Linked DNA regions of Homo sapiens. The protein of the gene in region 3 purifies or fractionates together with the protein of the main gene of each other region. This does not show direct contact. Each region holds a gene or a part of one and is shown on either strand. Other genes may lie near its edges.

What was found.
Region 1: the proteins of PLK2 (region 3) and POF1B purify together in Homo sapiens (affinity purification with mass spectrometry; 3 studies listed by BioGRID and IntAct, with this or other methods). This does not show direct contact.
Region 2: the proteins of PLK2 (region 3) and SDR9C7 purify together in Homo sapiens (affinity purification with mass spectrometry; 3 studies listed by BioGRID and IntAct, with this or other methods). This does not show direct contact.
Region 4: the proteins of PLK2 (region 3) and SUGP1 purify together in Homo sapiens (affinity purification with mass spectrometry; 3 studies listed by BioGRID and IntAct, with this or other methods). This does not show direct contact.

What each region holds. Positions count from the first base shown.
Region 1 is NC_000023.11:85,278,534-85,286,069, reverse strand, and holds part of POF1B (protein POF1B), read left to right. Parts: intron 1-3,752; coding exon 3,753-3,867; coding exon of another isoform or gene 3,868-3,891; exon of another isoform or gene 3,892-3,955; intron 3,956-6,643; coding exon 6,644-6,649; 3' UTR 6,650-7,536. UniProt on the Homo sapiens protein: Plays a key role in the organization of epithelial monolayers by regulating the actin cytoskeleton. May be involved in ovary development.
Region 2 is NC_000012.12:56,923,961-56,931,496, reverse strand, and holds part of SDR9C7 (short-chain dehydrogenase/reductase family 9C member 7), read left to right. Parts: intron 1-1,012; coding exon 1,013-1,271; intron 1,272-1,943; coding exon 1,944-2,107; intron 2,108-7,446; coding exon 7,447-7,536. UniProt on the Homo sapiens protein: Plays a crucial role in the formation of the epidermal permeability barrier.
Region 3 is NC_000005.10:58,456,783-58,464,911, reverse strand, and holds the start of PLK2 (serine/threonine-protein kinase PLK2), read left to right. Parts: upstream 1-4,825; 5' UTR 4,826-4,952; coding exon 4,953-5,222; intron 5,223-5,819; coding exon 5,820-5,927; intron 5,928-6,070; coding exon 6,071-6,187; intron 6,188-6,383; coding exon 6,384-6,513; intron 6,514-6,740; coding exon 6,741-6,828; intron 6,829-7,328; coding exon 7,329-7,424; intron 7,425-7,532; coding exon 7,533-7,731; intron 7,732-7,819; coding exon 7,820-7,967; intron 7,968-8,129.
Region 4 is NC_000019.10:19,275,416-19,282,928, reverse strand, and holds the end of SUGP1 (SURP and G-patch domain-containing protein 1), read left to right. Parts: intron 1-2,637; coding exon 2,638-2,744; intron 2,745-3,538; coding exon 3,539-3,716; intron 3,717-4,132; coding exon 4,133-4,239; intron 4,240-5,049; coding exon 5,050-5,195; intron 5,196-5,852; coding exon 5,853-5,982; intron 5,983-6,254; coding exon 6,255-6,281; 3' UTR 6,282-6,896; downstream 6,897-7,513.

The DNA.
Region 1 (7,536 bases), on a different chromosome or scaffold from region 3:
ATGTTAACAATAAGAAAAACAATGTTGTAAATTTACCTACATATTTATCTTTTCTGGTGCTATGTATTACTTTGATCAAATTCAAATTTCTATCTTGTATCATTTTCCCTTTGCCTTAAAAACTTCTTTTAACATTTTTTATCATGCTTCTCTGGTGAAGACTTCTTTTGGCCTTTTAAGTCTAAAAACAGTCTTTATCAATTCTTCATTATTCAAAAGTATTTTTGTTGTGTATAGACGAGTAAGCTGGTCATTTTTAAAAATTTTTTATTATACTTTAACTTCTAGGGTACATGTGCACAATGTGCAGGATTGTTACATATGTATACATGTGCCATGTTGGTGTGCTGCACCCATTAACTCATCATTTGTATTAGGTATATCTCCTAATGCTATCCCTTCCCCCTCCCCCCACCCCACGACAGGCCCCAGTGTGTGATCTTCCCCAACCTGTGTCCAAGTGTTCTCATTGTTCAATTCCCACCTATGAGTGAGAACATGTGGTGTTTGGTTTTCTGTCCTTGCGGTAGTTTGCTCAGAATTATGGTTTCCAGCTTCATCCATGTCCCTACAAAGGACGTGAACTCATCCTTTTTTATGGCTGCATAGTATTCCATGGTGTATATGTGCCACATTTTCTTAATCCAGTCTATCATTGATGGACATTTGGGTTGGTTCCAAGTCTTTGCTGTTGTGAATAGTGCCACAATAAACATACGTGTGCATACGTCTTTATAGCAGCATGATTTATAATCCGTTGGGTATATACCCAGTAATGGGATGGCTGGGTCAAATGGTATTTCTAGTTCTAGATCCTTGAGGGATCGCCACACTGTCTTCCACAATGGCTGAACTAGTTTACAGTCCTGCCAACGGTGTAAAAGTATTCCTATTTCTCCACATCCTCTCCAGCACCTGTTGTTTCCTGACTTTTTAATGATCGCCATTCTAAGTGGCCTGAGATCACTGTGGTTTTAATTTGCATTTCTCTGATGGCCAGTGATGGTGAGCATTTTTTTCATGTGTCTGTTGGCTGCATAAATGTCTTCTTTTGAGAAGTGTCTGTTCATATCCTTTGCCCACTTTTTGATGGGGATGTTTGATTTTTTCTTGTAAATTTGTTTGAGTTCTTTGTAGATTCTGTATATTAGCCCTTTGTCAGATGGGTAGATTGTAAAAATTTTCTCCCATTCTGTAGGTTGCCTGTTCACTCTGATAGTAGTTTCTTTTGCTGTGCAGAAGCTCTTGAGTTTAATTAGATCCCATCTGTCAATTTTGGCTTTTGTTGCCATTGCTTTTGGTGTTTTAGTCATGAAGTCTTTGCCCACGCCTATGTCCTGAATGGTATTGCCTAGGTTTTCTTCTAGGGTTTTTATGGTTTTAGGTCTAACATTTAAGTCTTTAATCCATCTTGAATTAATTTTTGTATAAGGTGTAAGGAAGGGATCCAGTTTCAGCTTTCTACATATGGCTAGCCAGTTTTCCCAGCACCATTTATTAAAAAGGGAATCCTTTCCCCATTTATTGTTTTTGTCAGATTTGTCAAAGATCAGGTGATTGTAGATGTGTGGTATTATTTCTGAGGGCTCTGTTCTGTTCCATTGGTCTATATTTCTGTTTTGGTACCAGTACCATGCTGTTTTGGTTACTGTAGCATTGTAGTATAGTTTGAAGTCAGGTAGCGTGATGCCTCCGGCTTTTTTCTTTTGGCTTAGGTTTTTCTTGGTAATGTGGGCTCTTTTTTGGTTCCATATGAACTTTAAAGTAATTTTTTCCAATTCTGTGAAAAAAGTCATTGGTAGCTTGATGGGGATGGCATTGAATCTATAAATTACCTTGGGCAGTATGGCCATTTTCACGATATTGATTCTTCCTACCCATGAGCATGGACTGTTCTTCCATTTGTTTGTGTTCTCTTTTATTTCCTTGAGCAGTTGTTTGTAGTTCTTGAAGAGGTCCTTCACATCTCTTGTAAGTTGGATTCCTAGGTATTTTATTCTCTTTGAAGCAATTGTGAATGGGAGTTCACTCGTGATTTGGCTCTCTGTTTGTCTGTTATTGGTGTATAGGAATGCTTGTGATTTTTGCACATTGATTTTGTATCCTGAGACTTTGCTGAAGTTGCTTATCAGCTTAAGGAGATTTTTTACATTTTTTTTAAAAAAGTACTTTAACAATATTGCTCTTCTGTCTTCTGACTTTCATTGTGACTGAGAAGTTTTTTGTTAATCTTATGATTTTTGTTCTTTGAATAATGTCCTTTCTTCTCTGAGGCTGTTTTTAAGATTCTCTTTCACTGGTTTTCAAGAATTTGATAATGATGTGCCTCTCTGTAGTTTTCTTCATGTTTCTTTTTTTCACGTTCACTGAGCTTCTTGGATACGTGTGTTTATAGCTTTACATCATGCTTGGAAATAATTTGGTCATTATGTCAATTATTTTTTTCCACCACCAATCCTGCAGGACTTTAATTATATATATATGAGGACATTTGATATTTTCCACAGTTATTTCATGCTGCATTCATTTTTTTCCGTTTTCTTTTATGTTTTATTTTAAATTATTTATTTTGATGTATTAAAATTTATCGGTCTTTTTGTAATGCAGTGCCTAATCTGCTGTTAACTCCACCTAATTTTTTTAATGTTTAGTAGTCCAATGTGGATCTTTTTTATATTATCTATTTCTCTCCTGTGTTCATGCTTTCCTCTAACTTCTTGAATATACCTTGTATATTTTATATGTTTCTAATAGATGCACATTTACCTACTAATTTTTTTATCAGTGTTGTCTCTTGGTCTGTTTCTACTAATTTATATTTCTCTTCATTATTAGTCGTATCGTCCATTGCATGACTATTCATTTTTCGTTGAATGCCATGAATTGTGATTTTATATTGTTGAGTTTTAGATTTTCGCTAGGGTATTACTTAAAATATTTGGAGTTTTGTTCTGAGATGAAATTATTTGGAAACAATTTAATACATCCAAGCCTTGCTTTTAAACTCTTTGAGAATAACCTGTACTTTGAGGCTAATTTTATCCCACTACTAAGGCAATATTCTGCAGTATCTATCTGATGGCCTCTATATCAGGAGAGCTTTTCACTCTGGTTTTGTTAGTGGAACACAAAACATTACCATCCCTATGAGAGCTCCCAAAATTGCCAGCCTGCTCCTTTCTAGTCATTATTTCCTAAGTCTTGGTAGCTTCTTCACATACAGGCACACTGATCAGTTTTCACCCAAAGGCTTTTGGGAAAACCTCTACAGCTGTCCTGACCTCTCTCTATCTATGTAGCTCTCTTCTGTCTGATACTCTGCCCCACAAACTCTGGGTGCCTTTGCCTATATTTACTCTAAACTTTATCACCTTATCTTGGTGAGACTGCTGGGATCTGTTTAGCTTCCTTTTACTTATCCCGTGACCAAGAAAATCTCTCCAGGCAGTGAGCTAGGCACTTGTAGGGCCCATATCATTTGCTTCCCTTTTCTGGGGTCACTGTCCTGTGCTGCCAGTCGTCCATCATGGCCAGAAACAGAAGTCCCTCTATTTTATTTTCTTGAAAATAATGGTTGTACATCTCTGTCCATTGAAATAGGGTTTTTTTATTTTTTTGTTTTTTCAGTAACAGTTAAAAAGTCATTCAGAGCCGAATTGGCTTAATTAGGGCAATCAAACTAGGAGTGACTAAAAAGGAATGAAAGTTATTTTCTCATGCAGCCTGTAAACTAACTCTTTTCTTGCCAACAGGTACAGGACACAATATCCAATCCTAGGCCTCCTATATGATGACTACGAATATATACCACCAGGTAGTGAAACACAGACTATTGTGATTGAGAAAACAGAAGACAAATACACTTGTGTAAGTTCACTTGGGCATTTTTAGCCCTATTTTGACGATATATGTACAGCCTTTTAAAATTGAGGTAAAATATCAAATGAACTAAAAACTTTGAGTATTTTTTTCTTTTGAGATTTTCTGTTTCCATTATTGATATACAGTGGGAATTAACAAATTTTGGAAAGATTCATACATGTGGCAATATAATTGATTATTTAAGCTATAATATAAATATAATTTTTGCCCCTCAAAAGGAAGAAGATTAACATTAGTGATATGCTAATTTTATTTATTTTCTTGCCTAGCTCGGTAGTTATTGAATGGGTTCCATTAAAATTTTCCAAAACAGTTTCCCTTTTTCTAAAGCAGGTAGCAAATATCATAGACAATTATGAAGGCAACTGGAAAATGGAGAAGAGGCATGTTTCAATAGAATTTGTCTTGCAATCTTGCATGTGGTACTTATTCCTGTGGATTTTATATATATATATATTATATATATTAGGATTTAGAAAGAAGAGATGTTTCTAGCTTCCTCACTAGACTGTAACATCCTCCAGCCTTAAATCCCACAGTTATAGTGAGGTTGCTGAAGAGTACTTTAAACATCATATACTCCAATATTTACTCTACCTTCTACAACATCCTCCAAAATGGCCAGGTGACATGGACCTTAGCATCTTTCTAAGTGGTCCAATCCATTGCTAAGGGGACTGATTATTGAAACCTTCTTATAAAGGACTGAGAGCTACTTCCCTAAAACTTTTACATATTGCTCTATTAACTTTTAAAGTAATGATCATCAAATAGGGGATATATAGTTGTCCCTCAATATCCATGAGAGATTGGTTCCAGGATCCCCTACAGATATCAAAATCTGTAGATGCTCAAGTCCCTTATCGGCATAATATTTGCATATAACCTATGCACATCTTACTGTATACTTTAAGTCATTTCTAGCTTACAATAACTAATTCAATGTAAATTCTAAGTACGTGTCATACCGTCTTGTTTAGGAGGTAATAACAGTAAAAAAAAAAAAAAGTCTGTACATGTTCAGTACAGAAATGATTTTTTTCCTGAATATTTTCAACCCATCATTGGTGGGGAACCCATGAATACCAAGGGCCAACTATATATTCCCTAGCACAGTTGCTCTCTACAGCAACAATTTTGTACCTTACGGGACATTTAGCAATGTCTAGAGACATTTTTGGTTTTCACAACCAGAGGGGTGGGTGTTATTGGCATCTAGTGGTTAGAGAACTAGGATGCTTCTGAACATACTACGATGTGCAGGACAGTCTCCCATAACAAAGAATTATCCAGCCCCTAATAAGTAGTGTTGAGGTTGAAAAACTCTGCTAACAGAATGCTCTTGGGTTTTTTTCCTAATTATATACTCCTACACTGGTGCAAGAGATTCTAATAGTAAGCCACTGGTAGGGATCATAGGAATGTGTGATATCCTTCTGGTGAAATGAACAGAGAAATGTTTGAGGATTCTAGTTCTCAAATCATACAGATCTGACTTAAAACATTGTGAAAATGACAGCCTTTGACTTCTTATGATAAAATTATCTACCTGTCAAACTACTGAGGTATAAAAGTAGGCAAAACTAAATCTATGGCTATTAAATGAAGAAATGGTTATCCTTGTGGGATGGATACTGATTAAAAGGAAGCATAAGGAGAGATTCAAGGTCTTAATAATGTTCTGTTTCTTTATCTGGGAGATGGTTACATATGCATGTTCGGTTTGGGAAAATTCATTTATTTGAATACTTATAATATGTCCATTTCTTTCTACATGTTTATTGTACTTCAGTAAAAGCCTTAAAATGCTTAAGTGTACCGTGGTGAGCAATAGACAAATATACAAATATCAATCCAGTATTCTGCAGAACCTTTTGAAAAATATTTAAAAATTATGCTTCAGATGTATAGTTAATAAAATTAAACATCTAAACATCTGTTAAATAACTTCTAGAAACATCTTTTGGTTGAACAAGCTCAAATATTTGAGTCAACAAAAAAATTCAAAAAGTTTCTTTAGAGCTGAAGCCCTTCTTTAACTACAATCCAGCCATCAATCTTTTAAGTATGGTTGTTATCATCAATGAAAACAACCAATGTTTAGTAATCCCAAAGTAAAAATAACTGCATTTAAACTCTGAAATGTTGTTTTTGTTAGGTCATTAGTTAGCTGAAAATTACTTACTACTAATTATTAACCCATAGAATTTAAAATTGGCCACTCAAAGATAATTTGATGCCCAAAGTTAAGACTGAGAAGCAATTGCTGCCACTAACCCTAACCACATGTATCCCAGAGGTGGCAATATGAAGACCTGCCAAATAAAGTTTCTACAGAATAGTAGCCACTACTTCTCTCTCCATTAAAAATGTGCAGCAGTAAAAATCAAAATTGATATTTGAAGAATCTATAGATACTGATAGCAAGGTCAGAATATATTTAAATGCATTCACAGATGAAAATCCATATTTATTAAGAGACAATTGGACATATTTAAACTCTAAATATTACTAAGAAGGAAATCTACTTAATTGTCCTTCACTCTTGCTTAAAGTCATTTGAAACATACCATGAGTAAAGTAAGAAAGACAAATCATTGTTTCATTGAATATATATATATAAAAGAGTGCCACAAAAGTGCAATACATGTCCTTTGGTTTTATACATACCAATTTAAATAATTTTCCATAACTTTGCATATAGTAACAATGACTTTAATTATGAACCAGTTGTAAGATAACCTTTTTTTTTCTTTTCTAGCCATGAATGGATCCACTTTAAAGTATTACAACTCAAAGCCGTTTTTTTTTTGTGTGTGTGTCTCTGCATTAGTACTTTGTTATTTTTCCATCACTAAAGGCCAATCAGAATTTGGAACCATGCTGCTACCCAAGAAATCTAATGGAATGAATTAGTTCTGTAGATGACAATTTCTTCACCCATTTATGAGACCTAAATCTTTTCCATAACACTCATGTATTCAGTATAACAACATACTAACTGAAAGAGGGACCTGATTGTTTAAAGTTTGATTGCAGACACTGTAGAACATAACTCATTATGTTTCAGATAAGGTAACTCCTAGATATCAAACTAATTTGTTGGGGTAGAGATTTTACAAGTCATGCCATTAGAAGATTTTCTCTGATATTATATGTGCAGTTCAGTTACAAGATGAAATCATGTTTTTTTAACAAAAGAGATAAAATACAATTGAAGCAAAAAATAACAGCTAGTATATAATATATACAGTCTGTATTTGCTTTTCACAGTAGGCCTGATGACTAAAAGATATGCTTTATTACACGCTATTTTCACCTCTTGAAAGTCAAAGGTGATGATTAATTTCATTTAGCAGGGAAGTGGAATAATATCTTTTGAAATAACTAAGTCCACTAAATTATACAGTATGCTATTCTGGTTCTAAGTACATATTAGTCCCTTGGCAAATCTGTTCTTTCAAAGCATACCTTCCCCAAATGAGCCTACCTACTTCTTAAAAAACATATAACACAATGTGGTAGTAGTAGGTGTAAGGAAGGTAAGTTTTTTCATAGTGGTATGCAAACATATCATTGAAATATTACATAGATATAAAGACTTAGGGAATAAAAATAGCAGCAACAAATACTTGATAGATTTATCCTACTTGG
Region 2 (7,536 bases), on a different chromosome or scaffold from region 3:
TGACAACACTTAGCATTATTTCTTTCCATTTGTACCAACCTAATTGAAATATCTCAAGGATAGTCCTCATCACATTTTCCATAATTATTTTATTTAAATATTTTATATATTTATTTATAAATATTATTATTTCCTTCTAGGCTTGTGAGTTCCTTGAGGGATAAGATGCTGTGTTGTTCATTTTATGTCTCCTTTGCCCTGTATTTTACTTTATTTTATTTTATATCGTTTTATTTCATTTTATTTTTAGAGACAGAGTCTCACTCTGTCACCCAGGCTGGAGTGCAATGGCACCATTATAGCTCACTGTAACCTCGAACAAGGTAACCTGTAACCCGGGCTCAAGTGATTCTCCCACCTCAGCCTCCCAAGTAGCTAGAACTACAGGCACATACCACCACGCCTGACTAATTTTTTTTCTTTTTTTGTAGAGACAGGGGTCTTACTCTGTTGCTCAGGCTGGTCTCAAACTCCTGGCCTCAAGTGATCCTCCCACCTCAGCCTCTCAAAGGGTTGTGATTACAAGTGTGAGTCACTGCACCTGGCCTCCTTCACCCTGTAATTGTCACAGACTAGATAAATGCATGAATAAATGTGTGAAGATGAATGAATGAATGGATTGATTTTGGTAGTATGTGAAATGCAGTTGGTTATACTTAAGTGAATAGAGAGGGAGAAGTATGATGGGGAAGGGATCTAAACATTAATTCATTGGTATGAAAATGAAACTCTTATCCCAAAGCTGATAGCTGAAATGCTGTCACCTAACACCTCGATTGTAGCTAGTACAGAGCGCCAGCTAGCCGGCAGACTTTATGTGAATCAGGAAAAAGTGTCCCTTCAGGGAAAACGAGTTAGTAAAAGACACACCTTCCTTTTATGTTATAGCCTGACCGAGTTATGTCTTGTGCACCTGCTCAACCATCCTTGAGGGCACTGAGCCGGTGGGGAGCAGAACTTGGTTCTTTCCCAGGCCCACTGATGATTTCTGTGTGGTTCATCTCACCCCCAGGCCTCTGGGCCCTGGTGAACAATGCTGGTGTGGGCCTGCCCAGTGGTCCCAACGAATGGCTGACCAAGGATGACTTTGTGAAGGTGATTAATGTGAACCTGGTGGGACTGATCGAAGTGACCCTTCACATGCTGCCCATGGTCAAGAGAGCCCGGGGCAGGGTTGTCAACATGTCCAGCTCTGGTGGTCGTGTGGCTGTCATTGGTGGTGGCTACTGCGTCTCCAAGTTTGGCGTTGAGGCCTTCTCTGACAGCATAAGGTAACTGGGCCCTGGTACTGAACAATTCTGGGTGAAAATCCCAGAGATTAGAGAGGGTTGGGAGTGACAGCATGTGGGCAGGGGAATTCCGCAGACAGGAAGCTAACACAATAGCAGAAGGAAGGTTAGACCTCAAGGTGCTTTCTCCAAGGACCAAGAGCAGGGATGAGGAGAAGAGGTAGGGTGGAAATACAAGGCATCAGGTGGGCCTTCCCTTGAGCGGCACCAGGGTGAGTGAAACCCTGTTTGGGCCTGTGAGAGGAGGGAGAGTCCCCCAAACAGACAGACAGGCCTGGAGGCACAGGTCCCCTCTGGGAGGTCCTTAGAGGAGCGTGCAGGCCTTGTGTATATCCACACCATTCACCGTGTGGGTGTTGAGTGAGGGGTTGCTAATGGGAGGGACCTGGTGGGAGGCAAGGCTTTGGCCTAGATTCTCTATTGACTTCTTCCCGCTGGTTGTGCCTAATGCAAATTGCCCAGAGACTGTTGGGCCAGTTTTGGAAAGGGCTGAGTCCCTAAGGAAGGGCTTATTTGCACAAAGGCAATGCCAGGGCCAAGTACAGGGGTGAGAGAAGCATCTCTAGGTTCCTGAAAGACCAGCCCATCCAGAGGTGACTCTCCGTGATGATTGTCATCTTGGGGCCCAGACTGACTGCAACTCTTCTTTCCCAGGCGTGAGCTCTACTACTTTGGGGTGAAAGTCTGCATCATTGAGCCAGGGAACTATCGGACAGCCATTCTCGGCAAGGAGAACCTGGAGTCACGCATGCGAAAGCTTTGGGAGAGGCTGCCTCAGGAGACCCGGGACAGCTACGGAGAGGATTATTTCCGCATCTGTAAGTTCCTGGGGCAGGAGAGGGGTCTCTGAGGGGGGCGAGTGGGTCTTGGGGTCATTAGCTGGCTTTCCGTTTACAGATGGTGAGACAAAATGCAGAGGAGTTCAGGACCCAAGGTCACATAGTGGCACAGCTGGGGTTTGAGAATAGAGAGCAAGTGGCAGAATCATCACTTCTGGAGCAGCCCGGGGAGTTAAGGGCAATTCAGCCCACTCCTGGCACCTGCCCCCACAGCATCATGATGCAGGGGAATCAGGTGAAAATGCACTGAGATAAATACAGCAAAGAGATCAAGGGCATGGCTGCTGGAGCCGGACTGCCTGGGTTCAAATCCTGGCTCTACTACTTACCAGCTAGGAGACTTTGGACCTATTACCTAGTTTTCCCATGCCTCAGTTTTCTTATTTACAAAATGGAGCTAAAGATAGTGCCTCCCTCATGGGGTTGTTATGAGGGTTAGTATGTGTGAAGTACTTTGCACATTCTGAGTGCTTGTTAATAAAGAAGAAAATGAGCACATGGGGATTTAAAAGGGAGGGTCTCTAGGCAACTCTCTTTCTTTCCCTGAGCTGAGGGTCTCCTGTGAATCATAGGTGTTTTTGGAGGGTAGAGGTGGGACACGGCAGCTGTTTACCCTGCTGCCCCAAAACTTTCTGCCACGAAAGTTGTCTGCTGGATGTCGTACGTCAACAGAGCACAAAGCCAAGTCAGCCATTTTTTTCACTTAATACATACACACTTTATTGCATTTTTGTTTTTTGTTTTTGTTTTGAATCAGTAATACAAAGCATGCAAGGCTGCCATGTCCCAAGCCTGTGTGGGGCTGGAGAGCTGGAGCGGACACAGCAGTATGCCTGCCCTTCACTGCCTGTAGCTTATGGCCCAGTAGGGGAGACAAACATAAATCAAAACACATGTGTTTATGGTAGATGTGGATAAGTGCTACAGAGGAGAAACAGGGTTGTGAAAGAAGAATGGAGCAGGAAGTTGCGGTCCCAATTCAGACTATGGTGAAGGGGAGAGCTTCTGAGTTGACTTTGAGGAGGAATAAGAGTTAGGTGTTGCTGGGAAGGGGAAAGAGGGGATGCGTAGGGACTTTTTTTCTGCAGGAAGGCTCTGAGGCAGAAAACTCCATTTGAGGAACTTTAAAGAAACCAGCAGGTGGGAAGCAATGGGAGGTAGCTGGGGTATACGGAATAAATTAGAGCATCAAAGCACACTGAGGATTAAGGGGTGAGGGAGAGGAAGCTATCAAGGGTGAGTGTTAGCTTTACAGCTTGAAGAACATGGTGAATGGAGGTGTCTTCATTCATTGATTTAGGGAAGTCTCAGGGAAAAATGTTTGGAGTACTCCTTAGATAAATTCATCTTTTAGTGCTAGACATGTTAGGATTCTGTGAGAAGAAAATGTCTAAGGATTTACACTAGTTGGGACTTACTCAGTGACAGAAGATCCAATGCAAATTATTTAAGCAGAAAAGGAATTTCTTGCCTCACCTGACTAAAAAGTTGAGCAAGATAAGCTTCAGGTACAACCTGACCCAGACTGCAAATGATGTTGCTAGGACCTGGTTCCACCCATTTCTTGGCTCTGCTTCTTTTGCACTGACTCCAGTCTCTAAGCTCTCTCCCCTGTGGGAGCCACATTGCTGCAGCCTCTCTTCACCTCCACCTAGGGTGAGGTCTGCTGGGAAAATAGGAGAGTTATTTCCAGTACCTCTCCCAAAAGTCCTAATGTACACTCCGACTTGGAGGACCTTATGGTGACCGCGTCATGGGGGACCACAAGATGCACCCAACCCTAAACCAATCACTGCGCCCAGGGGAATGTGAAGGTGTGATTGGCTCAGGCTGGGCTGTGTGCTCTGCCCAGACCAATGGACACAGTGTGGGGGAGGCATAGGTCCCCAGAGGGAAATCTGCAGCTGTTGGGAACAAGGAGAGAAGATGTTAGCATGTGTGGGGAAGAATATTTATCCTCTGTGTGATCATTCTTAGCAAAGAGTAGTTCAAATTATTTGTGGAGCTGCTTGGAGGCTGGGGTGAAATGGGTTCAGCCAGTGTCTGGAAACCTCACAAAGTCATTTTCTAAGTAAGCACTCAGGGTGAAGAGAGCTTGTAGCATCTTTAGTGTGGTCCATGAAAGAATATGTATAAAGGCAAACTCCTCCGAAAACCTTGTCCAAAAGCTAGTATTGTACTAAAGAATAGTAAGGATTGGGTTTATAAAATATCTTAGGCCAATTCACCTGTAGTCCACACCATAATTTCAGAGGAAAATTTTCAGGCAGTGGTCAACTACATTTAGATAAACGTTTTCCCAAGTGGTTATACTAGAATTTTTGCTTCAGTTGCCCAGTGTTTATTGGGATTCAGAGATGAGACACTCTCCAGGAAACTAGCAGGGAAGATGTGAAAGCAAATACACCACCACATGAAGAATCTTGCTATAATGGACATGCATACAAAACAAAGCAGCAATGCAGACTTCATTCTGCTGTCACAGAAGCCTTACAGAGGTGACAGTTAATGCCTTAGTGAGTTTTGAAGGATGAATAGGAGTACACCAAAAGGGAAAGAGATGGCGGATGTTTCACACAAGAGGAAGGGTGTGAGCAACGTTTTAGTGACCTGACATAGCATTGTATGCTTTTGGAGGCAGTGCAGATTCAGGCTTGTATTCCAGCAGTCCCTCTAATCATGTTGTATAGCTCTCCAAACTTGTTTATCCATTTATAAAGTACAATTCCTCTCTCATGGATTGTTAGGAGAATTAAACAGAAATGCAAAGTACTCAGCTCTGCTACAGTAAGAGCTGAACAAACCTTTGCCATTGCCATTATAGTCTGGCAGGAGTGCTGTGGGTGATGATTGAGGAGGGGAGAGATTAGGAGTCAGATCATGAAATGCTTTGATTGCTATAGTAGGGAGCATGGCTCTTATCCTAAAGGCATTAGAGAGCCTTGTAAATGGCTCTGAAATGAAGGATCAGATTTGTGTCACCGTGGGAAGGATAAAAAGTCCACCTGGGGGACTACTGCAGAAACCCAGTGAAGGAACGATAAAGACATGAAGTTGTAAGTCCTGATGGTTCTGGTGGTGGGGGGTGGCTATGTGACAGACAGAAGAGATATTTAGGAGTAGTCCTAGAGCATCGCTGGGTACAAACTCAGCCAGTTGCTGTGACTGACCAAACAGGCCCCTGGCTTGTAACCCCTAGGACCAGGCCTGATACTTTATAGATTTTGTCCTGCTTAATTCTCCCAATAACAAAAACATTTTCCCAGGTGCCCAGCTCCAAAGCCTATGTCCTTCCTCACTGTGAAGGAGAGTGACAAAGCTGGATGGGTCCTTCCGTCTCCCATCCTACTCCATGCCTAGCAGGGTGCCCAGCACTGAATGGCAGCTAATATCTATTTGAGAAAACAATGAAAGCAAGTGCCTCATACCATTCCCCATGTCTGGGGTAACTTCTCCCACCCCACTGCCTGTGCAAGCCCTCCCCACCTCTCAGAACCCAGTCCCCAGCCCATCTCACCATGTCAGCTTGCTCCACATCCTCAGCCCACAAAGCTTTCCCTGGCGCCGAGGGGGCAGAGAGAGCCTCCTGGGCATCCTGAACGATTCCTTCGACCCTCAGCCCTGCTGCTGGTGGCCTCTGTGCCAGCTCTACGGTCAGAGGTCAGGGTGTGGCTTCCTAAGACATTACTGCTTTATGGACAGTCTGGCTTTGAGTTAGTGTGGCTCTTGTTGAGATCCCAAAATATAGTTTGGCTTTTCCCCTGCATCAGTTTTCTTTCCAGGAAACAGAAAATGGAGTTTCTCGGAGTCTGGGGTGAAGGGGACTGAAGTGATGCTGCCCCATTCTCACCAACCACCCACAAGGGTCCTGGCCCCAAGCGGGTGAATTCCTTGCCTGCCTGGACCATTCTCAAAGTCAGGGCAGCTTTGGCTTCCTCTCCATTTTCAAGTTTTCATACCTTATCAGGGCAGTCTGACTTTGAAGCATCATTTTCCCTGGAGTCCTCAGGGCTCTCAATGAAGCATGAATCCCCCTGTCCTGGGGTGAGGATGCAGATGAGGGCCTGGTGGGTGTGTGGTGTGGCCCTTCTCCCATTTATGTCATGAACTTTGGCAGACTTGTACTATTTGGGTGCTCTGTCCCCATCTCCACCCCTGTGGGTCAATGCAAACAGAACAACTCCTCACATTTGTGAGGGCCCCACGAGGTGCTTGTCTATGCCTTAGATTATTTGAGTGACAGTGGCCTTATGACTGAGGTAGGGGCAGTATTACTATTTTTAAATAATATTTTCTCCTGCATGTTTTTGTTTAAATGTGGGAACTCTAGGAAGTACATAGAAGAAAAAAAAAAGGGCTGTTTTCCCATCATGTTTGCTCTTCTGTACTCCCCCAGTGTCTACCCTGCTGTTAATCATCTTTGTTATTCTCCAGGACAGATATTTTTTGAGATGGAGTCTCACTCTGTTGCCCAGGCTGGAATGCAGTGGCGCGATCTTGGGTCACTGCAACCTCCCACTCCTGAGTTCAAGTGATTGTCATGCCTCAGCCTCCTGAGTAGCTGCGATTATAGGCACGCGCCACCACGCTCACCTAATTTTTGTATTTTTAGTAGAGACAAGGTGTCACCATGTTGGCCAGGCTGGTCTCAAACTCCTGACCTCAGGTGATTGGCCTGGCTTGGCATCCCAAAGTACTGGGATTACAGGCCTGAGCCACTATGCCCAAACTTTAGGAAAGATAGTATTATCTCCATTTTATAGACAATAAAAGTTTAAGCTCAAAGTCATATAACTAATAAGCGGCACAGTTATAAGGAGAATGTGCACAGTTCTTCTCATCACCAGTCTAATGCAATAGTAGGACTTCAATGCACAATTGTTGAATTCAGAAAGATAAATAAGACTATTTGTTTATTTATTTATTTATTTATTTATTTTGAGACAGCGTGTCATTCTGTTTCCCAGGCTGGAGTGCAGTGGTGTGACCTCGGCTTACTGAAACCTCAGCCTCCTGGGTTCAAGTGGTTCCCATACCTCAGCCTCCCGAGTAGCTGGGATTACAGGCATGTGCCACCAAGCCCAGCTGATTTTTATATTTTTAGTAGAGATGGGGTTTCACCATGTTGGCCAGGCTAAGATTATTTATAATAGTCTTATAAATGTGTGTTTGTATAAGGGACCACCTGGAGGGTGTGGCGGACCTGCCTGAAATGTTAGATCAGGGATCTGATGGAAAGGGAACTTGGATGGAATTCGGAAGAAGCCATCTTTTATGAAGAATAACAGAGCCTTTTTCCCCTCTCTGCCCTCAAACAGATACTGACAAGTTAAAAAACATAATGCAGGTGGCAGAGCCCAGAGTCAGAGATGTCATCAACAGCATGGAGCATGCTATTGTTTCCCGGA
Region 3 (8,129 bases):
TGCCATTGTAGCATGAAAGCAGCCATAGACAATATATCTACATAAGCAAATGGGCATGGTTGTTTTTTGAAAATTATTATTTTTTCTTTTAATAGGTTTTTGGTGAACAAGTGGTATTTGGTTACATTAAGTCCTTTAGTGGTGATTTCTGAGATTTCGCTGTACCCATCACTCAAGCAGTGTACACTGTACCCAATGTGTAGTCTTTTTAAAAAAAATTTTTTTATTATACTTTAAGTTCTGGGATACATGTGCAGAATGTGCAGGTTTGTTACATAGGTATACACGTGCCTTGGTGGTTTGCTGAATCCATCAACCCGTCATCTACATTAGGTATTTCTCCTAATGCTATCCCTCCTCTAGGCCCCCACCTCCTGATAGGCCCCAGTGTGTGATGTTCCCCTCCTTGTGTCCATATGTTCTCATTGTTTAATGCCCACTTATGAATGAGAACATGCAGTGTTTGGTTTTCTGTTCCTGTGTTAGTTTGCTGAGAATGATGGTTTCCAGCTTCATCCATGTCCCTGCAAAGAACATCAACTTATCCTTTTTTATGGCTGCACAGTATTCCATGGTGTATATGTGCCACATTTTCTTTATCCAATCTATCATTCATGGGCATTTGGGTCAGCTCCAAGTCTTTGCTACTGTGAACAGTGCTGCAATAAACATACATGTGCATGTGTCATTATAGTAGAATGATTTATAATCCTTTGGGTATACACTCAGTAATGGAATTGCTGGGTCAAATGGTATTTCTGGTTCTAGATCCTTGAGGAATGGCCACACTGTCTTCCACAATTGAACTAATTTACACTCCCACCAACAATGTAAAAGCGTTCCTATTTCTCCACATCCTCTCCAGCATTCGTTGTTTCCTGACTTCTCAATGATCGCCATTTTAACTGGCGTGAGATGTATCTCACTGTGGTTTTGATTTGCATTTCTCTAATGACCAGTGATGATGAGCTTTTCTTCATGTTTGTTGATAGCATAAATGTTTTCTTTTGAGAAGTGTCTGTTCATATCATTTGCCCACTTTCTGATGGGGTTGTTTTTTTTCTTGTAAATTTGTTTAAGTTCTTTGTAGATGATGGATATTAGCCCTTTGTAAGATGGATAGATTGCAAAAATTTTCTCCCATTCTGTAGGCTGCCTGTTCACTCTGACGATAGTTTCTTTTGCTGTGCAGAAGCTCTTTAGTTTAATTAGATCCCGGCAAATGGGCACGGTTCTTTTAAATAAAAACTTATTGACAAATGTAAGAATTGGGCTTAATTTGGCCAGGGTTTTTATCATTTGTTGATGTGTCATGCATCATTTTATATATGAGATTATATCCATAGGATAAATTCCTAAGTAAGAGAATACATTCATTTCTAAATTTGATAGATTTGGCCAAATTACTTTTCACTGAAATTATATCAATTTCCATTCCCAACAGCAATATATGGAGTGCTGCTTCCTCAACACTTCAGCAGTTGAGCATGTTCACGGCAACTTTTGAGGGTTTTGCCAATTTTGTAGGAAAGGGTGCCTCAGTATATCTTTCATTTCAATTTCTCTTCTGAAGAGTGAAATTGAGCAAATGTAAGAACCATTTGTTTTCTGTTGGATAATTGGTATTTTATCCAATTGTAGGAGTTTTTATATAACAGGAAGATAAGCTCTTTCTCTGTGATGAGTTGAAAATAATTTTTCCAGTGTTATTTATCCTTTGACTTTATTTGTGGTGTTTTGTTATTTTAAATCAATGAAAGGGTTTTGTTTCTATATAGTTACATTAATGAATCTTGCTTTTTTTTTTTTTTTAGGGATTCTAGATTTTGTAAATAGTTGAAAGTTCTACCACATTCAGGCTATGAAAGAATTCTTTCATATTGTCTTAAAATTTCACGTATTTCAAACTTTCATTTGCTTGAAAATAAGCCAGATATGAAGCATGGATCCATTTTTTCCTTCCTACTGGTTACCAAATTGACTCCATGATATTTAGTAATTAGTCTACTTAATAGAAAGCGCATTTATTTCCTTTTTTGTTCTATAGACTACAATTTTGGTTCTGTCCACATGATGGCACCACAACCCCAAAAAAATCATGTTCTCAGTCGGAAAGAAGACAACATAAGATTTACACAGCGTTAATATTTTATTAAATGCCTCCATGTTGTGGCAGACAGACCTGAATTTCACATGGAATGTTCAACAGTTTATCAAATACTGAAGTCCATTTGGTAAAGATACATACCATAGTGTATGCTAATCAAAGAAGAAATTGACATTTAAAAAAAAATCATGACAATCTATTCTTCAGTTTTTTATCTTAGGCCACAAATGAATACACATACACATACACACATATGTATACATATACAGTTTATTATCAACCATAAAGACATGGTGTGTAAACTAGCTTTGATAAATTCTAGTAATATTTTCTAAACCTGCAAGCCTTCTACATCTTAGAGAGTAGGTTTGCACAAATCTGGGAAGCAAAGGTCACCCCTGGGCTTATGAATAAAGAGGATAATTACGTAATTCTGAATTTCCACCCCTAAGCCCCACCCCTTATTCCATCCCTGACAATCTTGGGGTTAAAGTCTATTGTCACTTATGAGAAACATGCCTGGACTTGCCCTGCACTCTTTAAAGAATCAAAAACGGAAGTGACAGCAAAGACTTTCCCTTTCTCCTCGCTAATGGCAAAGCCTTTCCCTTTCTCCTCTCTAATGGCAATAAGCCTCTTTTCCACATTATGCTGGAAGTATTTGAGACACAGTATTTTTGTAAATGTTCGATTAATGTTGATACCACACATACCTAAATTTGACAGTGGACTGCAGCAACTTTTTGTATGTACCTTCCAGGGATTCAATAATCTGGTATTCTAAATTTCTCTGGAATTTAGCTTCAAAAAACTATTTACCATATCCTGTTAACATAGGTAAAAAGATTCAAGTGTGCTGCTAATTAACCTAACCTCGATGATCTAGTAAAAATATACAATAATTACCTAAGTTCTCCAAGCCTCATCTATAAAATGGGAATAATAATGTAGGAGATGAGAATATGCCACCCCAAATATGGCCCTGGGATAAAGATTATTTTAAGATAATTATTTTGAGAACCAGCAGACCCAGGAAATGCTCTAAAAATGGCATATTACCCTTTCGTAAGGGAAACGTACATTCACTAAAAAAAAAAACAACAAAAACAAAAAACAAAAAAACCCCACAAAACTCCATTTGTAAAAGTGTCTCCTCTGTACCAGGAAGAATGACTCTAAATCATGAAAAACTTATCAATGAAGAAATAAGAAACCCCACTCCTGTTTACCGTACATTTCCTGGTCATGATTCCTTAACTTGCCTGCCCCACTCTTTTCTTTTGGTTTAGCTAAAGATAGTATTTAAGCCCGATTTTAAACCATCTCTAATTTTCCTGGTTATCTCCCATGTATATATGAGACGTATATGTTAATAAGCTTCTTTGTTTTCTTGTTAATCTGTCTGGTTACAGCGACCCAGGCCAAAACTTTGAAAGGTGGAAAATTATTTTTCCTTCCTTACAATATTTCTCTCAGAATTGTTGTAGGATGAAATAAGGCATTTAAAAATACTGCACAGTCCTCAATAAATGTTACTCTATCGTAATTAGAACAAGAAAAACAAACAAAAAAACGTGTTCCTAGATTAGTCAAACTGCACAGCAAAATCTGGAAATGGGAAACTAAGCTGTGTTTGCACTCACTGGCCTACGCTCCTCTCTTCATCCTACCAATCTCCCTACCCCAGAAAGTCTCAGATTGACTCTCCAGGAACCAGGGCAGCTCATGAGCCATCTCAACAGATGCATTCGGAAGAAGTCATAGATGACTCTGATTGGAAACTCACAATCGGCATCGATGTTTAGTACTAGTAACTGTCAAAGGCCCACGGTTGTCAACCGCTGCCCACTTCGACACCTAACGGCATTCCGGAACATTCCACAAGATGGCGCCCTTGCTTTCCAATCTTCGGGCTACGGGCGGAGGACGCCTTGCCAGGACGCCGACCTCGCTCTGCAAGGTTCAGGGGCCGACCTCAGACAGAGGCTCGCTCTAGGGGCATGGGCGGGGGCCAGACGGGCCTCGAGTGGGATCCTGGCACGGTTGGCCGATCGGCCCGGGATCCCGGCTGCGGGCCCGTGTCTGCCCTAGCGCGATGGGCTCGAATGCCCGGCTCCACGAATCCCGGCCTTTCACCCCCACGGCCTCTCGGCACTGCCCCAGCTAGACACCAGCGAGCTCGTCACAGCGCGGGCAGGCACTGCGGGGCAGCTGCAGACGAGCCCTGTCATACGGCCGGAGGAGGCCTCGCCTGCCCGTGCGGCGGGCTCCGGGCACCCTGATACCTTGACACAGGAGGCCCCGGGCGGCCGGGAAGGGCTGTGCGGGGGAGGGACTGCGTCTACACCCGCGCCCGACTCGCTCGGGTCACGGCACTGCCCTGCCACCAGGCGGCTGGGGCGGGGGTGAGGCCAGGCGTCGGCCCTCGCGATTCTGTTTTGTACGCTGAGGCTCGGAGCCTTCGAAGAACGGGACAGCGGGGCCCACGGACGGCTCTGAAGGCCTTCCCGCGGCCGCAAGAGATCTCGGCGGCCGGCGTTTGAGGCGCGCGGCTCCGCTGGGAAGCGAGACCCGGGTGGCGGGACAAGACTTGCTTCCCGGCCACGCGCGCTCGGCCGGCCGTGGGGCGGGGCATAGGCCGTGACGTGATGTCGCGTATCGAGTCTCCGCCCCCTTCCCGCCTCCCCGTATATAAGACTTCGCCGAGCGCTCTCACTCGCACAAGTGGACCGGGGTGTTGGGTGCTAGTCGGCACCAGAGGCAAGGGTGCGAGGACCACGGCCGGCTCGGACGTGTGACCGCGCCTAGGGGGTGGCAGCGGGCAGTGCGGGGCGGCAAGGCGACCATGGAGCTTTTGCGGACTATCACCTACCAGCCAGCCGCCAGCACCAAAATGTGCGAGCAGGCGCTGGGCAAGGGTTGCGGAGCGGACTCGAAGAAGAAGCGGCCGCCGCAGCCCCCCGAGGAATCGCAGCCACCTCAGTCCCAGGCGCAAGTGCCCCCGGCGGCCCCTCACCACCATCACCACCATTCGCACTCGGGGCCGGAGATCTCGCGGATTATCGTCGACCCCACGACTGGGAAGCGCTACTGCCGGGGCAAAGTGCTGGGAAAGGTGACAAGCGGAGGGCGCCGGGCTGCCGGGCGGGCGGGAGGTCTGTCCGGGCGACCCCAAGCCGGGCAAGCCCGCGGGGTCCCTCGCCCGCCGCTTCCGGGTTTTTCGGGGGTCCGATCCCAGCGCGAGGTGGGCTCCTCACCTGCCCTCTGGCTTTTGTGCGCCGGCAGCGCTGGGGATCGGCTTTGCATTCTTAGCCTCAGAACTGTGTGTCTCCCGCAGCCCAGAGAAATGCATCTTGAGTCTGGAAGCGAGGGCTTTCTACATCAGACCTCTCTCCCTCTATCTGCTCCCAGGGAATTTTCCTGACAAGTCTCATCAGAGATTATTTTTCATGTCTCCCCGTTCCAACTCCCTCCATAAAGCTCCCCTTTATAAAAGAAGAAGAGAAACTGTTTGAACTTGCTGTTTCCAGCAATGCATTTCTCTTCATGAGGGAGCTTTAACGAAGTCGAATGCCTCCCTCTGTCCACCCTCCTCCATTCCTCAATTTTTTTTTTTTTGCTTTTCTTTCTTCCCATTTATTTATTTATTTAAAATATCTGCCGTCCATTTTTGTGCCATCCTCAATTCCGTCTCGGCTTTGTTTCCTTTCAGGGTGGCTTTGCAAAATGTTACGAGATGACAGATTTGACAAATAACAAAGTCTACGCCGCAAAAATTATTCCTCACAGCAGAGTAGCTAAACCTCATCAAAGGGAAAAGGTGCGTATGACTCTTGAGTAAAGTATTTTCTTTGTGTGCAAGGATGGCCCTTCCCTGTTAGGAAAATGTCTTCTGCATGTGTAATCACTGGCTTTTCCGAGGTGACTGGAAGCTAATAAGCCTTACCTTGCTTTTTCATTTAGATTGACAAAGAAATAGAGCTTCACAGAATTCTTCATCATAAGCATGTAGTGCAGTTTTACCACTACTTCGAGGACAAAGAAAACATTTACATTCTCTTGGAATACTGCAGTAGAAGGGTAAGTGTCAACTCCTATTTGAGAACATTTGCTTACCCCGAATTAACATGGTATTCAAAGAGTATTTTATCTGGGATTTTAGCTGTGGCAGCACTTACACTGCAAAGTTAACTTTCATTGCTCATCCTGCAAAGGGAAACCAGTGATTTTGATAACTGTTTTGACAGATTCTCTTTTTTCCTTCTCCTCTTCTTAGTCAATGGCTCATATTTTGAAAGCAAGAAAGGTGTTGACAGAGCCAGAAGTTCGATACTACCTCAGGCAGATTGTGTCTGGACTGAAATACCTTCATGAACAAGAAATCTTGCACAGAGATCTCAAACTAGGTAAGTCATTGACGCCAAAAGCTGAGTTTTGTGTTAGAGTTCTTTTTTCTCTCTCTGTTTTTTTTTACATATTAATGTTCTTAATTGGGATCTCGTGTCTGCAATCTTGCTTTTGAATGGGCGACTTTCATATAACAATTGGCTGCCTGGCTCCAAAGTGGATGTGTGTGTACTTGGTTAGAACGCATTTTCAAAGGGATTCACATTTTGTTTTGTTTATCGTCTAGGGAACTTTTTTATTAATGAAGCCATGGAACTAAAAGTTGGGGACTTCGGTCTGGCAGCCAGGCTAGAACCCTTGGAACACAGAAGGAGGTAAGAGTCAGAAAGATGCATCCTAGTAGACTTTTGTGGAGACCAAATATGCCTTCATTATTTTGCATTTAATGTTTCAGAGGTCCGGTAATAAAATCTATAAATCATAGCAATGTTAATTTAAAGAAATACTTATTAAATGCCCACTATGGACTAGACAGAGCACCCTGTGCCTCTAAATTGATTATGAAAGCAGTCAATGAAGTCTTTTCTTGGCTTAAAATGTATAAAATGCCACGACGTCCCTGGCTTTAGTTGGTTAACAACACTTTGCATGTGGGCTAAAACAACGTGTGTGCATTTTTAAAAATTACCAAAACTCATTTGGTCAGATCTCAATTGAATTTTCAGATGCCAAAAGTCAAATGTTTCCAAATAGAAATTCAGTATAGATTTTAAGATTTTGTTTAAGATTTTGTCTCCCATCAAGTCATGTCAAGAGAACCAAGTTTAAGTAGTGGAATAGTTCCTAACACGATCTCAATATTTTGTCTTTCCAGAACGATATGTGGTACCCCAAATTATCTCTCTCCTGAAGTCCTCAACAAACAAGGACATGGCTGTGAATCAGACATTTGGGCCCTGGGCTGTGTAATGTAAGTAAATGCAGCAGAATAATTAAAAAGCAAATTCGGATTTAGATTTTAACACTTGAAAAGAGTTGCTTTATGACCATTGCTAAAGATGTGTTTCTTTGCACACAGGTATACAATGTTACTAGGGAGGCCCCCATTTGAAACTACAAATCTCAAAGAAACTTATAGGTGCATAAGGGAAGCAAGGTATACAATGCCGTCCTCATTGCTGGCTCCTGCCAAGCACTTAATTGCTAGTATGTTGTCCAAAAACCCAGAGGATCGTCCCAGTTTGGATGACATCATTCGACATGACTTTTTTTTGCAGGTTGGTGCACTATCTTTTTTTTTTAATTACCTGGTATTGATCCCAGTTACCTGACAGGTTACTGAAGGCTTTTTCTAATATTCCACAGGGCTTCACTCCGGACAGACTGTCTTCTAGCTGTTGTCATACAGTTCCAGATTTCCACTTATCAAGCCCAGCTAAGAATTTCTTTAAGAAAGCAGCTGCTGCTCTTTTTGGTGGCAAAAAAGACAAAGCAAGATATATTGACACACATAGTAAGTTAACAAGACTTCTTTTCCTTTTTCGTACCCAATATTATATTTAAATTTGGTAAATTAGTTAAAAGAGAATTTTATATTAGCATAACTTGGCCATATTTGCGTATTCTTAAATGTTGATATTTATAGCATAATAAATCCATACCTTGAATTGTGATT
Region 4 (7,513 bases), on a different chromosome or scaffold from region 3:
ATTTTTTGTATTTTTAGTAGAGACGGGGTTTCACCGTGTTAGCCAGGATGGTCTCGATCTTCTGACCTTGTGATCCGCCCACCTTGGCCTCCCAAAGTTCTGGGATTACAGGCGTGAGCCGCCGTGCCTGGCCACACCTAACTTTTTCTTGATTTTTTTTTCAGTATTTCTAGGCTACGTGGTTCATCTGACTTTTTTCGAATTGTTGCAAATCTCCAAAAATTTTTTCAATATATTCATTGAAAGAAATCAGCATATTAAGTGGACCTGTATAGTTCATACCCATGTAGTTCAAGGTCAACTGTAATATCTAGTGTAGGTGTGCAGTAGGCGGTAGCATCTAGGTTTGTGGAGGTACAGTCTGTGATGCTCACACATTGGTAACGGCGCCTAATGATGCATTTCCAGAATGGTCCCCTCCATGAAGTGATTCCTGACTGTATTTGTGTCTTTGGGTCTGAATTGAGTCTCTTTTTTTTTTTTTTTAACATAAATAGAGATGGGGTCTTACTATGTTGCCTAGGCTAGTCTCAAACTCCTGGGCTCAAGCTATCCTCCCACCTCAGTCTCCCAAAGTGCTGGGATTACAGGCATGAGCCACCACTCCCGGCCAGTACTTGGATTCTTTCTTGTCACAGAAAGTTCAGGAGGCTGGGTGTGGTGGCTCACGCCTGTAATCCCAGCACTTTGGGAGGCCAAGGTGGGCAGATCGCCTGAGGTCAGGAGTTCAAGACCAGCCTGACTAATATGGTGAAACTCCGTCTCTACTAAAAATACAAAAATTAGCTGGATGTGGTGCCACGTGCCTGTAGTCCCAGCTACTTGGGAGGCTGAGGCAGGAGAATTGCTTGATCCTGGGAGGCGGAGGTTGCAGTGAGCCAAGATCGCACCACTGCACTCCAGCCTGAGCGACAGAGCAAGACTCCATCTCGGGAAAAATGAAAGAAAGTTCAAGAGACAGACAACGATAAGCACAATAATTACCACAGTTTTACACAATCACCTTTTCACCTCTCCCTTCTTAGCAGCAATTTCGGGGAGGGCCAGCCTATGGCCTGGTCTCTCATTTTCTTACCAAACCTACAAGGGTTGGGGGGTGGTCTCTTGTCATTGCATTCTGCAGATGATAATCAGTGACTGACACCCACTATCTCATGTCATATGGTGCCCCACTATGCAGCTATGCAGCCTGCACTGTGGAGCAGAAACATCACCCCCTCACTCCACCTTCACTGGCGCTCAACACACAGGTGCATGGAGGAGTCCGACGTGCCCTGTTGTGTGGCGCCATCACCTGTGTTTGCAAGATGAGGACAGGACCCCAAAAGGGAAGGCGACAGCCTTCCCAGGTCGGGTGGCCAGCCTCTTGGACCTGCTCGTCCAATTCAGGGATGATTGCTTTCTCGGTGCCTCCCTGGCCCCAAGGGCCTCAGAGATTCTAGGTCAAGGAGAAAAGCTACTGAATGAAGATTCTTATGCTTACCAGGGCTGTAGCCAGCAACTGCAGCCAGGGTGGAGGGTACCTAGGATTGGTTTGTCACTCAAGTGCCGAACCCTAGTGCTTAGATCCGGGTGCTTCAATGCGCACACACCCCAGCTCTGAGACACCCAGCAGGTGAAGAAGTCGCCCTGTGGCTTAGTTGGACAGAACAGGCTCCAAAGTCTGAGGCCCAGGTTCAAGTCCCACTGATCCATGTCCTCAGGGAGCATGGCAGCCCTCACCCGCCCGCTCATGTGGTGGAGTGGGCCTGGGGGAAAGGGACTGTGGGCATGCTCTAAGGCAATCAACCAGATGCTCAGACTTCGGCTCCTGCGTCTCCCCAACAGGGCTCCCCCACATCCCTCAGTGCCCTGTAAACCAAGGAAGGACTAAGAGTGCAAATGTGGGCCATTCTTAGCGGCAAAGCCCGAGTGTTGATGAGCTGGAAGGACCCAAATCTTTTCCCTTCCCAGAGGGCCCGCTGCACCCCTTTGCTCACCTTCTCCCCCGGGAAGCACCGCACCGCCCGAGGGGTGGTGGTTTCTGCCACCCGGATGGGGCTGTTGCAGCATCTTTCTATGTGTCAGTGTTACTGGAGCCTGCCAAGTTCCACAGCTGATGCCAAATTAAATGTCAGCTGCTCTGAGGATGGTTGGCTGCCTCCCCTGAAGGAGCTAAGGGAGTCGCACAGCTGAGTCTTACGCCAGACTCTGAATCTGTGCGCGCTTACACCTGGTGTCTGTTAGCAACGGAGCTGCCTTCTGAGAGCCCGTTTGTGCGTGCGCCCATGCATGCTGCCCACATGCCGTCTCAGCTCTCTTGTCTCTGGCTCTGCAAATTCCTGCCCTGTCACTCGTTAGCTGTGTGACCCTGAGTGAGTCCCGGAACCTCTGATTCTTGGTGTCCACATCTGCAATGTGGTGGTGCGTAGAGCCTGGCTGGAGAGGTCACAAGGACGTAAGATGCGGGGGTGCACGTGGCAGCACACAGCGGGACCCCGAGGCCGTCACGTACCACGTGGCACTGACAGTAATGATATGAGGTCCCCGTGTGCCTGGAGTGTCATGAAGGTGTGAGACTCACAGCACACCCCAGCGCAGGAGCGAGATCGGGGTGCACCTGTCAGGCTCTGACTACCCTGTGTCTTTGGTTTCCAGTTCAGGACCTCAAGGGGCTCGGCTATGAGAAGGGGAAGCCTGTGGGTCTAGTGGGCGTCACAGAGCTTTCAGACGCCCAGAAGAAGCAGCTGAAGGAGCAGCAGGAGGTAAGACTGCGGGGACAAGGGGACGGGGACATGGTCGGCGCCCATAGAGTGTTGTCCTCTACCCCCGGGTGCAGCGGTCACAGGGGTTCATGTGCTTCGCCAAGCTCCTGTGTTCAGGTGGAACCCATGGCCAGCGGGGAGGCTTCCAGGCAGGCAGGTCCCCCTGCCCCAGTAGGTGGCATGCCACCCCCCACTGCACCTGAGTGGCCTCTCAGCCTGCCTGGGAGACCACTGGCCCTTGGGGCGGCCCCGGTGGTCTGTGATCCTGGCCTGAGCTTTGTGGCTGCTTCTCGCCGCGCTCCAGGGCTGGTTCCCATGGGAGAGTCTACGTTGATGTTCTTTGTCCGCAGTCCTCTGTCGTGTCTAGTGCAGGACCATCCTGGTCAGCACAGGGCACCCTGAGGGACTTGAGGCCTCCCAGTTGTAGTTGGGCAGTGTCGGTGTTGGCTCCCCTGAGGAGCTGCAGGCGCTTGCCTGTCAGTCCCTGGGGTCAGCTCGCTGTGACCCCTCCTCCAGGCCCGCAGCCCCGTCACATCACCCTTGACCCTCCCAGGGGTCAGGACCCTGAGTCACCCTCATTCAGTGGCCAAGAGGTCCTCCGTGCTCCACACTGGGATTTAGAGAACCCAGGGCAGTACTCAGTACTTGCTAGAGTCCTTGCTCCAGTCCTGCCCAGGGGTCCAGATGAGCCACGTTCCGGCGGGGGATGCCCAGCACTGGAGGCGGGGAGCAGGAGCGGGGCTCCGGCAGGCCACAGCACCGTGCCCTGGCTCACTGGCGAGTGTGCCCTGCAGATGCAGCAGATGTACGACATGATCATGCAGCACAAGCGGGCCATGCAGGACATGCAGCTGCTGTGGGAGAAGGCAGTCCAACAGCACCAGCACGGCTATGACAGTGATGAGGAGGTGGACAGCGAGCTGGGCACCTGGGAGCACCAGCTGCGGCGCATGGAGATGGATAAGACCAGGGGTATGTGGGGCAGCGGGGTGGGCCGGGCTGGGCTGGGCATGGCCCCCCTCACCTGCCCTGGAAGGTTACCTGGATGCGCCACACGTGGTCTTGAGCTGCCATCCTGGTTTAGCCCCCAGCCTGCTTCCTGTGGCTGTGAGGCCTGGAGTGAGAGGCTCAGTCTCTCTGGGGCCTAGTTTTCTCCGTGGTGAAAAGGAGCAGTCCTGACATCGTGAGGGTGGAGAGCTGCACAGGGTTCACTAAATGCTGGGCTGCCTCACCAGGCAGAGGCTCGGGCTGGGGTCATGGCCTAGCCGCCTCCTTCCCTGGGGGCCCCAGGCTCCCACTGAGCCTCATACCTGTGCCCTGGGAGCCACCAGGCCTGCTCCCCTCCTTCCTGCTTCTCCCTCTTCTCACCTTTCTGCTTCTCTGAGCAGAATGGGCCGAGCAGCTGACAAAGATGGGCCGGGGCAAGCACTTCATCGGAGACTTCCTGCCTCCAGACGAGCTGGAAAAGTTTATGGAGACCTTCAAGGCCCTGAAGGTGAGCCAGGAGGGGCCCTAGCTCCAGCCTCTGCCACATGCCAGCCCCTCCTGTAGCTGCCTCACCCTGCAGGTGCCCAAAGTAGCCTGGCTACCCTCTCGATCACAGCAGGAGCCAGGCCTTTTCGCTGCAGGAGGCATCTGTTAATGACAGGCGCCGTCTGTGTAGGGAATTAGCAAACAGCAGCTCAGCTGCTGCCTCAGAAACATTTCCTGGGGCTGCGGGGGAAATTTTGCTTCCAGTGGAGCCAATTAAGTGCAGTTTACAGGCAAAGTGTTTCTCCGGCAGAAGTCCCCACGGACTGGCCTCTCCAGAACCAGAGTTTAACATTCTGCCTCTGCTGCTGTTGGGCTCCTGAGGAGAGAGGGCTGACATGGCACGTCCCCCATTATCTTTTTGAGGTTTTTTTATAAAACTGTTCAGGGCCTGATAACCTCATTAGTGAGGTGGTAACCTCGTTGTCCATCTCTTATTAGTACCTTGTACAACAAATTGCTCTCAGGACATGAACACGGGGCTTCTCTTTGCCAGTGAACCATTGCTTTATCTCAGGTGGATAAGGCCTGTGTAACTCATCCTCTTGCCCTTTTGACTTGGCCACCAGGGGTGCACAGTTTGGCACTAAGGCCCCGGGGACCCTGAGAAGCAGGAGGAGCTTGGTCTGTTTGTTCTCAAGGAGTCTGATCTGGTGAGAGGGAGGCAGATGGGCCACTGGTCCCAGCACTGATTGAAACCAAAGGCAGAAGGTTGGATTTGGGGGCCACCACAGCCCCAGCCCTGGTGGGTGACAGCTACCTCCTCACCTTGCAGGAGGGCCGTGAGCCTGACTACTCAGAGTACAAGGAGTTCAAGCTGACTGTGGAGAACATCGGCTACCAGATGCTGATGAAGATGGGCTGGAAGGAGGGCGAGGGGCTGGGCTCAGAGGGCCAGGGCATCAAGAACCCAGTGAACAAGTGAGTGTGGCCTTGTGGGAGGGCATGGCCATGAACTTGGGGTCTGTGGGTCCCCTGCCGCCTCCCCATTCCCACCCCTTTATGTCATCGCTTTTCCCTTGTGGCAAAATGATCACAGCACCCCACTGCACACCCCTTGTCAGGCACAGGCCTGCAGTGCAGGAGGCCATACGGGCTGGGTCCTCCCCAGTCCCAGGGCCTCCTTCCGTCCCCTCATGAGTATCTCCAGGCCAGATGGGGTGGGTGAGGGTACAGATGGGTCAGGCCTTGTCTGCCTTGTGAAGGGCCTTATTTGAATTCCCCATGAGTGCGAAACCACTCCCAGAGATGGGCAGGAGCTCTCCCAGGTGTGACCCTGGCCCCGAGTGCCCCCTTCAAGGCTGTCCTTGAGTAACCATCCTGCCATCCCAAGAGCTGCGACAACTTGCACTGTGGGCTCCTCCTTCCTGTGTGGGACCCTGGGGCCTAGGCCCCCCCCCCCCGCCCGCCCCGGGGGTCTCCCCTCCTTGACCATTCAGGTTCAAGCTTCTCTCTGTGCAGATATGTCCCAGCCCAGCCCTGCACCCGCGGGAGGTGCTGTTGAGAGCCCAGCTGTGCCCGGCCCCCCGGCCAGAGTTCTGGCCCCAGGTCCCTGCTCACATCCTCTTCTCCCTGTAGGGGCACCACCACAGTGGACGGCGCTGGCTTCGGCATTGACCGGCCGGCGGAGCTCTCCAAGGAGGACGACGAGTATGAGGCGTTCCGCAAGAGGATGATGCTGGCCTACCGCTTCCGGCCCAACCCCCTGGTACGCATGTCCTCCTGGGCTGCCTTTGCTCAGTCGACAGGAGAGGGTGGTGGTAGGAACAGAAGGCTCCCTTCCTTCCTCAGTCCAGCCAGGCTGGGTCTCACCAGCGAGCCCCCTACCACCCACCTGCATTCAAGCCCCCACCCGTCCCCCAAGCCTGCCCTGCCACCTCAAGGGTGCGGGCTCAGCTGCCTCCGGAAGGTTCCAGACAGGAGGAACTGCTGTCTTTAGTGCTAATCCCCTCCTCCTGTTATCTGTTTTGCCTTCCACAGAACAATCCCAGACGGCCTTACTACTGAGTGTTCTGGAAATACATACTTTCTGAATGACCAACCGTCCCTGGACTGTGGAATGTTCCGGCCTGCATTTCTGCCCACCCCTTCCGTTGTCACGAGTGCCGTGCCGTGTAATAAAGTCCCAGTGCTCATCCACCACAGATGCCTGGTCCTGTTGCAGGAAGCCCCTCCTGTTAGCAGCGGGATGCAAGATGCTGTCTCGGGGCTCTCCTTATTGGCCTGTGGAGTCTCCATCCCCGCTCAGCCTGGGTTGCACTGGAGGGGAGGAAGAAAGTTGTTTTCAGCATAGTAAAGCTGGAAGGCCAGGTGCAGTGTCTCACCCCTGTCATCCCAGCACTTTGAGAGGCCAAGGCGGGCGGATCACTGGAGGTCAGGAGTTTAAGACCAGCCTGGCCAACATGGTGAAATCCTGTCTCTACTAAAAATATAAAATTAGCTGGGCATGGTGGTGCACACCTGTCGTCTCAGCTACTCGGGAGGCAGAGGCAGGAGAATGGCTTGAACCTGGGAAGCGGTTGCAGTGAGCCAAGATTGCGCCTTTGCACTCCAGCCTGGGCAAGAGAGCAAGACTCTGTCTCAAATAATAATAATAATAATAAAGCTGGAGACTTGGCCACACCTGGGCTAAAGGAATGTCAGGAACCTCCGAGCCTAGCACTGTGCTGCAGAGGGAGGTTGGGGAGGGGTCTCCAGGCAGGGCCCCACCTTCCCTCAGACCTGTGGGGGCAGGTGGCTTCTGGGCACACCCATGTGCTCTCCTGGCAGGTGGTGCTGGCACGGCCCAGCACACAGGTGTTGGCTGTGGCCCTTCAGGTCCCACCAGTGTGGTAGGCACACGAGTCCCTGGGGCTTGTGTCGTTAGGGGACAGCCGCATGGATGCATGGATGTGCCATGCCAACATGTCAGGCAGCTCCTAGAAGGAAGGGCCTCAGAGCCGGAGGTTTTGAGGCAGGAGGGTAGCCCAGGCCACAGTGTGTGCCAAGACCCCCACATCTGCCCCAGGGCCAGAGCCCCACATTTGTGCCTAAGTCACCCTGGGGATCTTGTTAAGCTGCAGCTGCCGAGTCAGCTGGTTGGGCAGGGCCCTGGGAATTTGCATTTCCATCTGCCCCCACCCCCTCCACACACACCCAGTGGGTGCTGCCCAGCCCCTGCAGGCACCAGGGGCTCCCTATTCACATGCTTGGCATGGAGTCGGGCTCCTGGGCCAGCTTGTGTTCACACAGCCATTCAG